3 separate regions of the Homo sapiens genome follow, and all the other regions are linked to region 1. The links come from fine-mapping of genetic effects on gene expression. A gene starts in region 1. Each other region holds a variant in brackets. All regions are shown on one strand. Distances are between the middles of the regions. Region 1 holds the start of INPP5F (inositol polyphosphate-5-phosphatase F). Region 2 has its middle 36 kb from the start of INPP5F. Region 3 has its middle 26 kb from the start of INPP5F.

The links. PIP is the estimated chance that this variant, and not a neighbour inherited with it, causes the effect.
Region 2: its variant is the best candidate, but not a certain one, in a credible set for the expression of INPP5F in testis (GTEx, PIP 0.52).
Region 3: its variant is the best candidate, but not a certain one, in a credible set for the expression of INPP5F in whole blood (INTERVAL, PIP 0.69).

Annotation. Positions count from the first base shown.
Region 1 is chr10:119,724,416-119,728,653 of GRCh38, reverse strand. It overlaps INPP5F (inositol polyphosphate-5-phosphatase F), which reads right to left and starts at 2,604. Exons shown (of 20, transcript NM_014937.4): 1 at 2,295-2,604. The coding sequence starts at 2,391. RefSeq lists a silencer at 2,176-2,945 and an enhancer at 3,556-3,605.
Region 2 is chr10:119,688,155-119,692,392 of GRCh38, reverse strand. No RefSeq gene overlaps it. Among named protein-coding and RNA genes, the nearest start is that of INPP5F, 36 kb to the left of the region's middle. RefSeq lists enhancers at 311-810, 3,884-4,238. The variant G/A (reference allele first, on the strand shown) is at 2,579.
Region 3 is chr10:119,698,058-119,702,295 of GRCh38, reverse strand. No RefSeq gene overlaps it. Among named protein-coding and RNA genes, the nearest start is that of INPP5F, 26 kb to the left of the region's middle. The variant G/T (reference allele first, on the strand shown) is at 2,291.

The sequences.
Region 1 (4,238 bases):
TCTTGTTTCAGGTTGTTCAATAGTCACGAATGTAAAAACCACGATGCCCACAAGCTTTTTTGAGCTTATAATACTGCCCTTTCAAAAAAGAAAAGGACTTAGTAATCTATTCAGCTAAATAACCAGTAGGAAACAATGAAAGATTTTAAATGCTGTCACTACAAACAGCAGCAAAACTTGCCATAAAAGCACAGGGGAAAAGTCCAATAAAATAAAGAGAATTTTAAATGATTCCATATACAGAAAAAGATCTGAAAAGCACTTATTCAATTAAAATGCCATTCTTAAATAGCCATTAGTTAGAAAGGATCTTCAGTCCTGGACAGGATAAACTATAGGAAAATCAAGTGCATGGGATTCTTTATTCCCTGGCTATCCTGAACACCTTAAGATCAAAACTGGCTGTTACTTCTGAAACATGGCCTCTTCCTTCCTCCAGACATTTGGTCTACTTGGTCTGTGGCCCGCTATATTCTAAAAAGTATGCCAATCTCAAGTGCAAAGGCTATAGCTACTTTCCTCCCCCAAAAAAGTTTTAAATTTGCCTTCTGACATGGACTTTGAACAAACAGTAATCCAAACTGCATGGCTTCATCCAAGAATCTAGGCGCAGGTTAGCCTTTATAGTTCAAGAAACTGGGGTGTAGAAAAGTTTGTTGTCAGATGAGTTGGAGACGATCTTAAGTCCCATCCAGTTCTAATAGTCTAAGCTTTTAGAATCCAAGGAGTTGACTCTTTTGACAACCTAGGAATTTTGAAATCTGCTTTACTTCAAGCTGTACTGAAGCCTTACCCAAATTTGGGGGAGTGAAAGGAGGGAAGGGGAGAAAGCCAGACAAATGGTCAAATCAGAGAAGAGAATGACAGAAGACTGGCCAAAATTAGCCTATCCATAATAACTCTATCCCGAGATCATCAAGAACTTTATCTGGGCCAAGGAGTTTATCCTCCATTCTGAAAAGAGGAAATACAACGTAATAGCAAGAAAATATAGACAGAGCCTGAGGAAAAAAATAAGTTATCCTTCACTGCTCTGGCAAAGCAACTAGTAGGCCTTCCTAAGAAAGCAGTGGGGCCTGCCCAAAAGTGTTCTGGAGGTCACAGAACTGCCCTGTGTCAGTGTCTCAACTCTAGGCTGTGACCCCGAACGAGTTACTAATAACCTCTCACTCCTTTCTCCTCACCTGAAAAAGAGGATCCCACACGTGTCCTGTAAGGTTGCTGTGGGGATTGGAAATAATATGTTAAAGGGCCTGTCCTTAAAAACCATCCTATAAGTGATACCACGCTGTGATCTGAAAAGCTCATCTGAACCTTTTATCCTTTTCAATTCATATCATGTAATCCTTCTGTCTAGACTGCACATAAGAATTACAAGTAAGTCTGAAAAGCTCTGGCTCCTTCCTTAAAGAACTCTATCCTCTCGCTTTCCCTAAAGTGGAAGAATCTCTGAGTGATATGAGGAAAGGATTAGCAAGCCAAAAGGGGCAGGTGCCACCCAGCCCCATCTTACAAGAAACTGGACTGTCAGCGCTCTGAGGGCAGGGACTGCTCTGTTTAAACCACGACTGCACACACATTTTCCTAAAGCAAGCTAATTGCAGACTTAAGCCTCTCCGAACAGCTTACATGACACCCAAACATGGACCCACAATACATTTTGTGTCGCACAACATCAAGTCACACAAAAATCTCAAAATTATACATTACAATACAATTTAATTGTGCTGTGGTATTAAAGTCAAAGACAAAGGCTTTAAACCGAGTGCCTATGAGGTAACCACAGTAAAGTCACACCTTTAATAATAAGGGACCAAGAACACACGGGATGGCAACAGGGAGTGAGTGTCCAGCAGAGCCCTAGACGGAACTGGCGCAACCGCTCCAGATCGGAATTCGAACCCAGAACTTCTGGCGAAGGCCATGTAAGAACTACTCCAAGGAGGAAGAGGCCTTTACGGCCAGGTGCACCTTGCTGGAACTTTCTGCCGGAGGGGACCCCCTCCCCTCGGCCTGGGCCCCAAGCCCCAAGGGCGGCCGCGTGACGCGGTGGGAAGGACGAGGGTCGCCAGCCCCTTCTGCTCCGCACTGGGGTAGGGGCTCGGCGCTGTCTCGGAGAAAGGCCAGGCTCCTTCCAGTCAGGGAATAATGACAGCTCGCGCGCTCGCAGCCCGCCCCGCCCCGCCTCACCAGGCCCGCAGGCGGCTCCTCCCGCCCGGCTGAGGGGTCCGGCCGCGCCCCCTCCTCTCCCCGCCCTGGCCCGGGGTGCCCCCCGCCCGCACCGCCAGCCTCACCGGGTCGGAGCTGGAGGCCGCCGTCGCGGCGGCTGCACCACAGCGCGCGCTCGCCCTGCTGCAGGATGTAGTGGTCCTTGGCTTGGAAGAGCTCCATGCTGGCCCCGCGCGCCCAGGGAGGCGGCGGCCCGCGGGCGGCGCACGGGGCGTCCTAGTCGGTCGAGGCCGCCAGAGCCCGCGCCTCGGGGAGCGGCCGGGTAGGAACCGCGCCGAGAAGCAGCGGCAGAGGGAACGCCCCGGGGCACCCGACCGGTAGGAGGAGAACGCGCCCCGGCAGCGGCGGCGGCAGCGGCGGCCGTAGAGGCCTCTCCCCCCCGCTCCTCCCCTTCCCTGGCTCCGCCCCAGGCCCGGCTCCACCCCCTCTGCTGGCTACTCTCCCCGAGCGCCCGGCTCCGCCCCTCAGCCTCCTCCTCCTTTCAGCTCCCTCCCGCTTCCTGCCCTTTCCTCCGCCTTCTCCCGGGTGTCTCCTCCCAGCTCCTCCCCGCGGGTCTTTCCTCCTCCCTCTCGTCCTTCCGCCCGCCCCTCCCGCTCTTGCCCAGGCCCCTCCCCCGGCGCGCCAGCCTTCCTGTCGTGGTCACCGGTGGCAGCTCGGGAGCTCGGCCGAGTCGGTCTGGACTGACCGCCTCCCTCCGCGCGGCCTTGGGGACAGGCGCCCACCGCTGGGGCCTCCCCTCCGTGCAGGGAGGCGCTCACGCTTCGCCAGGCCGAGACCTGAATCCAACCCCACACCCGCTCTCCCGGAGCGGTGCGGGGTACGTTCCCCGCGGGCCTGCGCTGCCTGCCCGTACCGAAACCAGGCGAGACCCCGGGGCCTGGCTACAGGGGTTCATCCCCAGCCAGGCCCACAGCCAAGCGGAGGCGTCTTCTGTTTTCGTATTCCCTATTAGAAGTTTGACAACAGGAGGCATTCAATAAATGCACATCAACGAGGGAAAGCATGTAACAATAGAAAACACACAAGCATTAGCAGCACGCGGCTAAAGAGCGAGGAGGAAGGGAGGAATGTACAGGTGCTGCTGTGTCCCGAATTAAGCAGGGCGGTTTGGAGAAGACTTCACAAATGGAGCCAGTTAATGAAGCAAGCGGAAGGAATATCGTTTGGCGAGGATAAGATGAATGGAGACCCTCTCGGGGAAGGAGGAGTCTCCCCCAAACATCCTTGAGCTCAGTCTGTCTTGAAAAACCAGTTGATATCCTGAACAGAATGGGTCTGGAGAATGAGGCCCCCACTTCCGGGGCCAGTTCGAGGACTATCTAGCTGTGTGATCTTGGGGAAGTCTCTTGGTCTCAGATGGTGGTTGAACTAATGACCTTTTATGACACCCCCAGTTCTATAAATCATTGAGTCTTCCTACTCCTAACTCCTTGCCTTCTCTAATGCCTGAATCGGAAACAAGAGAAAAAGACAAGAAGTAGGAGATGAGAAAAATAAGGCAATACTTTTTTTTTTTTTTTTTTTAGTTTAGGAGCGGAAGTTTATAGGCAAAAGAAAAGGGAGAACAGCTGTCTCTCTTGCGAGAGAGAGGAGTGACCGAATGGGACTTCTCAGAAAGCAATACTTTTAACCTTCTGCTCAAGTAAAAGTGAGAGGGTACAAAAGCAGGAAGGAGTTCCACATGACTAGTTATTCCAGCCCACAGTGTTGAATTTCCATAGCACAGAAAGTCCAATGATAACAAAGCGTCCTGGAATCTTTTCTAAGTACCATGCCTCTGTGCTGTCCAGACACCTCAACATAAAGGTCGAGGGAGGTGGTTACTCTATCAAATCTTTGTGATGTGATTTGGAGAAAGAAGGTAATGAAGCTATAAGAAGCTTCAGTGGAACCATCGGTTTCAGATTGATTGTTTAATTCAGCCATGTGTTGACTTAGCAAAAATGAGAATGAGAAAATCCTATGAAGACATTGTATCCTGCAAATTATTTCATTATTGTTTTATGAAT
Region 2 (4,238 bases), 36 kb after region 1:
AGGCTGGTCTTGAACTCCTGACCTCGTGATCCGCCTGCCTCAGCCTCCCAAAGTGCTGGGATTCCAGGCGTGAGCCACCATGCCTAGCCTATTAACTTAAAGATATATTAATGTTGCTGGGGATAAATCAAGAGGAGAAGTTGGACACACAAGAGAGCTGGGACAACTGAAAAATCAAGGTCTCAGAAGAGGTGGATGGTGGGATCATCTTTGAACAGAGACTGTGAGCCCCATGTCATTGGCACCAATGCATTGGGCCCTCGGCCTCCCCAGGACAGGGTGGGTCTCCTCTCAGAGGCCTCTTTCTTACCTCCCTGGAAAGAGGGGAGCCACAGCGACTCCCGCCCTGTCTTCATCAACCCTGCCTTTCTAATCAGGCTGCTAGCATCTTGGGTTGGATGCCTGATATTTCACTTCAAATGCCTCCCAGACTTGCTAAGTCACTTCCAGGAGGCATTGACAGCTGTGTGTGATCACTTGTGGTGGGACTCTTGAGCAGCAGCCAGCTCTAATACAGAGCTTCAAAGGTGGAGCTGGTTATATTCTGGCTGTCTTCACCTTCAGTGTCAAGGCATACAACAGCCCCTCGTAACCTAACAGGCATGTTTCTCATTACTTCTTTTTTATTTTTTATTTTTTTGAGATGGAGTCTCACTCTGTTGCCCAGGTTGGAGTGCAGTGGCACGATCTCGGCTCACTGCAAGCTCTGCCTCCCGGGTTCAGGCCATTCTCCTGCCTTAGCCTCCCAAGTAGCTGGGACTACAGGAGCCAACCACCACGCCCGGCTAATTTTTTGTATTTTTAGTAGAGACGGGGTTTCACCACATTAGCCAGGATGGTCTCAATCTCCTGACCTCGTGATCCGCCTGCCTCGGCCTCCCAAGGTGCTGGGATTACAGGCGTGAGCCACCGCACCCAGCCAAAGCCACCGCGCCTGGCCGTTACTCATTACTTGTTTGCAAACACTCTATGCCCCAGCTCCTCCAGACAGCTCACTGTAGAACGGCTCCCCATTCCTTTTCAATCTGCCCTACTAAAGATCCCTGACCAATTTGCGGAGAAGGACTGAGTCTTGTTCGTCGAGGTACATTGAACTCCTAGCACAGTGCCAGGTATAGAGTAGGCATTCAGTAATACCTGTGGGATACAATTTTCCCTGAATGCACTTCATGCTTTCACACTTGCAGGCTTTTGTTCACAATACTCCTGCTCCCCAGAAGATCCTCTTCCCGTTTCAGACTCTTAACTAGATTCCCCTTATCTGCTGTCTCTCTCTCTCTCTCCCCTCCAGCACCCGATTACTCTTCATCTTCTTAGCCTGTTGTGCTCTGTCCTGAGTTGCCCCAGCATACCGTATTCAAACTGCTGGTTTACTCGATTCACTGCCCTAACCCCCTTACCCCTATTAGGCCTGAAGACAATGGATAGGCTTTACCCATCTTTATATTCCAGTCTTAAACTCACTGTGTTTCTTTTTCTTTTCTTTTTTTTTTTTTTTGAGTCAGGGTCTCACTCTATGACCCAGGCTGTGGAGTGCAGTGGCACAATCATGGCTCACTGCTGCAGCCTCGAACTCCTGGGCTCAAGTGATCCTCTCACCTCAGGATCACTGACAAGGTCGCACCACGTTTCCCAGGTTGGTCTCCTAGGCTCAAGCAACCCTCCCGACTTGCCCTCCCAAAGTGCCGGGATTACAGGCAAGAGCCACCGTGCCTGGCCTACTCTCTGTTCTTAGCAACAATTAGAATAATGTCTGCCGTATAGTAGGTATCAATATACCTGTGTAATCCAGGTAGGACAGGCTCCTCTTCTGTATCCTGGAGTACTTCTTGCTAAAATACAGTGAGGAGAGATGAGACAGGAATTAAATATTCAGTCTTACTGTCTCTCAATTTTGAAACTGCCTCAGACCATAGGACTCTCTAAGTTTAGTGACACCTGGTAGCACCTCCATGGCAGGGGTGGAGGGCTGCAGCTCTGCTGGAGACACTCTCCCAGTTGATCAGAATGTGCTTACCACCCTTTTGGCCGCCTCACTAGTCTTTGCCAACCCAAACCCCACTGGCTGCTACGGAGTCCACAATGAAAGGGGTCCCCAAGAGAGTATTCTTGGATCTCACGCAAGAAATAATTCAGGGTGAGTCTGCAGAGTAAAGTGAAAGCAAGTATATTAAGACAGTAAAGAATATAAGAATGGCTACTGTGGCCAGGCGCCTGTAATCCCAGCACTTTGGGAGGCCAAGGCGGGAGAATCATGAGGTCAGGAGTTCGAGACCAGCCTGACCAACATGGTGAAACCCCATCTCTACTAAAAATACAAAAATTAACCATGTGTGGTGGCGCACGCCTGTAATCCCAGCTACTCAGGAGGCTGAGGCAGGAGAATCGCTTGAACCCAGGAGGCAGAGGTTGCAGTGAACTGAGATCGCGCTACTGCACTCCAGCCTGTGTGACAGAGTGAGACTCTGTCTCAAAAAAAAAAAAAAAAAGAAAGAAAAGAAAAGAAAACAAAGGCCGGGCATGGTGGCTCACGTCTGTAATCCCAGCACTCTGGGAAGCTGAGATGGGCAGATCACCT[G/A]AGATCAGGAGTTCGAGACCAGCCTGACCAGTATGGTGAAACCCTGTCTCTACTAAAAGTACAAAAATTAGCAGGGCGTGGTGGCGCGCGCCTGTAGACCCAGCTACTCAGAAGGCTGAAACAGGAGAATTGCCTGAACCCCAGGGGGGCGGAGGTTGCAGTGAGCCAAGATCATGCCACTACACTATAGCCTGGGTGACAGAGCAAGACTCCATCTCAAAAAAAAAAAAAAAAAAAATAGCTACTGCAAAGACAGAGCAGCCCCAAGGGCTGCTGGTTGCTCATTTTTATGGTTATTTCTTGATTATATGCTAAACAAGGGGTGGATTCTTCATGCCTCCCCTTTTGAGACCAAATAGGGTAACTTTCTGATGTTGCCATGGCATTGGTAAACTGTCATGGTGCTGGCGGGAGTGTAGCAGTGAGGTCACTCTCATTGCCATCTTGGTTTTGGTGGGTTTTGGCCAGCTTCTTTACTGCAGGCTGTTTTATTAGCAAGGTCTTTGTGACCTGTATCTTGTGCTGACCTCCTATCTCATCGTGTGACTTAGAATGCCTAACCTTCTGGGAATGCAGTGCAGTAGGTTTCAGTCTCATTTTACCCAGCTCCTATTCAAGGTGAAGTTGCTCTGGTTCACATGCCTCCGGCAGACTGGAGGTACAGATAGATTTCACAGAGCAGCCAGTATAGTCTGGATGAAGGAACAAAGGAAACGACACAGTTCCCTTGTACCGTTCATGCGGAAAAGGTCTTATAGAATTAAGCCTCCAGAAAGAGGGGGCCCACAAAGACCCTCCTTTTCTCTCCATTTCTCCATCTGCGCTCAATACCCCCCTTCCTGCCAACCCCTCTTTCACGCACCCAGACCTGATACCTTTCTCTTTTCCTCCAGATACTTCTCTCCGTAGTTTACCCTGTTACCCTAACCTTGTTGATTTTTTTTTTCTGCTTAGTCCATCATTTTCTCAGAAATGTGTCTTAACATCTCCCACTATGATTGTGGATTTGTCTATTTCTCTTTTTAGTTCTGTCAACTTTGTTATGTATTTTAAAGCTTTGTTCTTTATTAAGTGCTGCATATCATGTATGAAAAATTACAGATATAATTTGAGGCCCTAGATGATAGTAAGATTTATTTTTGCTTCTGGAAGGCAGTTGGGGTCTGGGCAGGCACCCTTAATCCAGTGGTTTTCAACCACAGGTGATTTTCCCCACCAGGGGACATTTGGCAATGTCTGGAGAAAGTTTGGTTGTCAGAATTTGGGGAAGGAGAGGTGCTACTGGCATCCAGTGGTTAAAAGCCAGGAATACTAAACATTGCATAGGATGGTCCACTGATAATGTCAATTTATCAGTGTCAATAGCACTGAGGTTGCGAAAGCTTGCCCTAATCCAATTATCAGAGGCGTTTGAACCAAAGTAACTCCATCTTGAGTAGGGGCTGCGTAAAATAAGGCTGAGACCTGCTGGGCTGCATTCCTAGAAGGTTAGGCAATCTAAGTCATGGGATGAGATAGGAGGTCAGCAGAAGATACAGGTCATAAAGACCTTGCTAATAAACCAGGTTGCAGTAAAGAAGCCGGCTAAAACCCACCAAAGCCAAGATAGTGACAACAGTGACCTCTGGTTGTCATCACTGCCACACTCCACTTGCACCAT
Region 3 (4,238 bases), 26 kb after region 1:
GGTGAAAGGAGTAGAGGATGGGATGAGAAAGGCCAGGGACAGAAGCTTCCTTCCTTTCTTTTGCACCAAGCAGCGGTTTGTTCAGGAGCTACCGTTTTCCGTTTGTGCAGTGCTGCCTCTGCACCTCAGCAAATTTCTGACCGACCAACAGAATCAGAATAAGCCACTCATACAACACCCCACAACAGGGACCCATTGTCATGGAAGTCAGGTGGCTGAGAGCTAAGCATTATTCCCCTGATCTGTCCCGGGCGTTGTTTGGAGGTTGGATGAAATCATGAAATGTAAGCATTCTTTCTGAGTCTGGAAGCAATCCAACGAAATTGAATGATTCATTCCTGACCCCAATTACCTCCTTTTACCCCACAATATTCTTTCTCTACCTTCTCCTACAAAAGCATTTGTTCACTCAATAACTGCTATGTGCTAGTTTTAACAATCTGACAGCTCAAAGAGATAGACATCAGCTCTCTTTTTTTTTTCCTTTTCTTTTCTTTTTTTTTTTTTTTTTGAGATGAAGTCTAGCTCTGTCGCCCAGGCTGGAGTGCAGTGGCTCGATCTTGGCTCACTGCAACCTCCACCTCCCAGGTTCAAGTGATTCTTCTGCCTTAGCCTCCTGAGTAGCTGGGATTACAGGCATGTGCCACCACACCTGGCTAATTTTTTGTATTTTTAGTAGAGACGGGGTTTCACCATGTTGACCAGGCTGGTCTCAAACTCCTGACCTCGTGATCCACCCGCCTCAGCCTCCCAAAGTGCTGGGATTACAGGCGTGAGCCATCGCGCCCGGCTTTTCTTTTTCTTTAGAATTGAGAAACCATAGAGAGACACGTCAAAATAACTCCTGAAGATTGCCTCTTTATGCAAGAGAAATACAAATAACCAGATTTCTTCTTTCTCTTTGGGCTTAAAAATGAAATCTCATGTGATTTATCTTTGTAATTCCAAGAAAATATTTAATGTTTTATTTTCTCCTTTTTACCATATTTTACTTTACTATCTCACTTTCTGCTGTTCTGAATTATTTTTATCACCTTCTTTGTTCTTAGAATTGTCCTTTGCCCCCATTTTTTCCCTCTTCTTCAGTTTCCTAATTGTCCCAGCTATTTCACTCTCTCTTTCTTATGGTTCTCTCTAGAATCATCAAAGTGTAGAAATTTAATATGAAAAGGGATTTTCAGTTAGTTTAGCAGCATCATTTTACAGATGAAGAGCTAATGTTTAGGGAATTTGTCCAAAGTATTCCAGTTAATTTGTGGGAGGACCTGGCACTGGAACCCAAATGTCCTGATTACCTGAATACAGCTCCAATTCCTTCTTTAGATCTAATGCCACATTCACATAAGACATCTTCATATCCCTGCCATACCTGCTGATCTCTTGTGCTGCGTACTAATGTCAAATCTTAGGCTCTGGGCCATCAAGTATGGATTTATTTATTTATTTTTATTTTTGAGACACAGTCTCTGTTGCCCAGGCTGGAGTGCAGTGGTGTGATCTCGGCTCACTGCAAGTATGGATTTAGTTATTCTGGTGCTTAAAAGGTTTGAGATGTCATTTTTCTGAGTAGATGGCAGATGATTTCATGAAATCTGTGAAATGCGGTATTCTTATTTAATTTTATGAAAAAGAGAAATACAAAGAAGAAAAGGGGAAATTTTGATACAGTATTACCAATAGTAAAAGTGTGGAGAAAGAAAGAGGAAGTGAAATTTTACAACTCAAAACTATGCTCACGGTATACTCATAGATTTCAGTCAGTAGCACAATCTAATAATAAAACATTTGGGTCATAGGTCAAACAAGTAATTACAATCTGATGTTTTTCACTAATTAGAGTAGAAGCAAATTTTATTCAATGTTGTGTCCCCACAGTCCCCACAGTTCTTGATGCATCCTAAGTGCTCAATGCACTGTGTCTAATAAATGTTGACTGAAATAAATATGTGGTCTAGAGAAAGTTAAATTAGAAGATCGACTTAACACTGGATTCAGGGTTCTTTTAATGCCAATATTCTAATTCTAATTTTGAAAAGCAGCACAAGAATATTACCAGTTAGAAAGAAAGAATCCGGCCAGGCGCGGTGGCTCATGCCTATTATCCCAGCACTTTGGGAGGCCAAAGCGGGTGGATCACCTGAGGTCAGGAGTTCAAGACCAGCCTGGCCAATATGGTGAAACCCTGTCTGTACTAAAAATACAAAAATTAGCTGGACATTGTGGCACGTGCCTGTAGTCCCAGCTACTCGGGAAGCTGAGGCAGGAGAATTGCTTGAACCAGGGAGGTGAA[G/T]GTTGCAGTGAGCCATGATCACGCCACTGCACTTCAGCCTGGGTGACAGAGAGAGAGAGAGAGACACTGTCTCAAAAAAAAAAAAAAAAAGTTAACATAGTAAACATCATGTTATGCATATTTTACCATAAAAAAAAGCAAGGTAGGGAAAATGTGTATAGTTTTGAGTAAGGAGGGAGATAAATCTAGGTATATTATTACTTATGTATTACAAGGAAAAATAAATATAAATTTTAAATTGCTAACTTTAGTGGAAAAGAGGGAACAGGTTGGAGAACACAGGGATATAAGCTAGACTTATTTGAATATACCTTGCTTTGTAGATTAGATTTTGAAATTGTGTAGATATTTTATATAATTATAGAATAAAATAAATAGGCACTCTCAAAAAGAGAAGAAGAGGAACTATACCTCCTCTATCTCTTTCTTCCTCTACTCCGGCAACCTTATAGACCACTATTCCAGATGATAGTGGTACAAGCTAGGAGGGGGCTGCCTGACCACTATGGACTTCATGTGAGCCAATAAATAAACTCGTGTTGAGTTAAGCCACTGAAACATTGCAGAAGCTAGGATAGATTGGTTTTTGTTTTTGTTTTTGTTTTCGTTGTTTTGTTTTGAGACAGGGTCTCACTCTGTCGTCTAGGCTGGAGTGCAGAGGCACGATCGTGGCTCACTGCAAACTCTGCCTCCCGGCTCAAGCAATCCTCCCATCTCAGCTTCCCGAGTAACTGGGACTAAAGACACACGCCATCATGCTCAGCTAATTTTTGTATTTTTTGTAGAGATGGGGTTTCACCATGTTGCCCAGGCTGGTCTCAAACTCCTGAGCTCAAGCGATCTGCCCACCTTGGCCTCCCAAAGGGCCAGGATTACAGGCAGGAGCCACCACGACTGGTCTAGGGTATATTATTTGGACCGAATACCAGGTAATGCAGGTAAAGCACTTGGCCCTGACTCATGCTAAGCAGTCAGTACAAATGCAGCCAAGCCTCGGGTCAGCCCCAAAACCAAGAATGAGAACCACTCAGACTCCCTGTCAGAATCACATCTCTTCCCCTCTTGGAACATCTGTTTCTTTTTTTCTCATGTAGAGATCAGTTTTCTCTGCTTCTCTCTTCACATGATAAACAGAAGGTCACTATCCCATAATCCATAAAGTAATTTTTCCTCCATTCAAGAGGCCAATAAGTTCAGGTATTGGCTGTCTCTCAGGCTAATTCCCTAAAGTCTCAAACCCCTCAAAAGAAAGTATTACTGCTTTAGCTTGGGTTAAGTGTGTGCTTGTGGCCCAATAACATGGTCACTGGAGAAAGGTCTTGCCGCCCTCCAGCCCCTGCTGTGAGTGGGGCAGGCAGTCACCCAAGAGCAGTCACTGGCAGGCTCCACAGGCGTGCCCCCTAAAATGACTCTATTGGTTGGGATATGGGTTCAGAGACCCCAAATAATAATGGTATAAACAGAGAAAACAGTTATTTTTTCCTTTCTTGAACAGCTGTATGTAGGCAGCTTAGAGTTCATATGGTAGTTGTCGTGGGTCGAATAGGATCTCCCAAAAATTCATATCCACCCAGAACCTCAGAATGCAACTTTACATGGGAACAGCATCCCTACAGACGTAATTAGTTAAGGATTTGGAGATGAACTCATCCTGAACTTAGGGTGGACCCTAAATCCAATGACTAGTGTCATTATAAGGAAAGGAGAGGACGTAGAGGAACACAGAGAAGAAGGCCACGTGAAGATGGGGGCAGAGATTACAGCGATGCTGCCACAAGCCAAGGAACACCTGGGACCACCAGAAGCTGGAAGAGGCAGGAAGGATTCTTCCCTGGAGCCTTTAGAGGGAGCATGGCCCTGCTGACACCTTGATTTTAGACTTCCAGCCTTCAGGACTATGAGAGAATAACTTTATATTGTTTCAAGCCACCTAGCTTGTGATAATTTG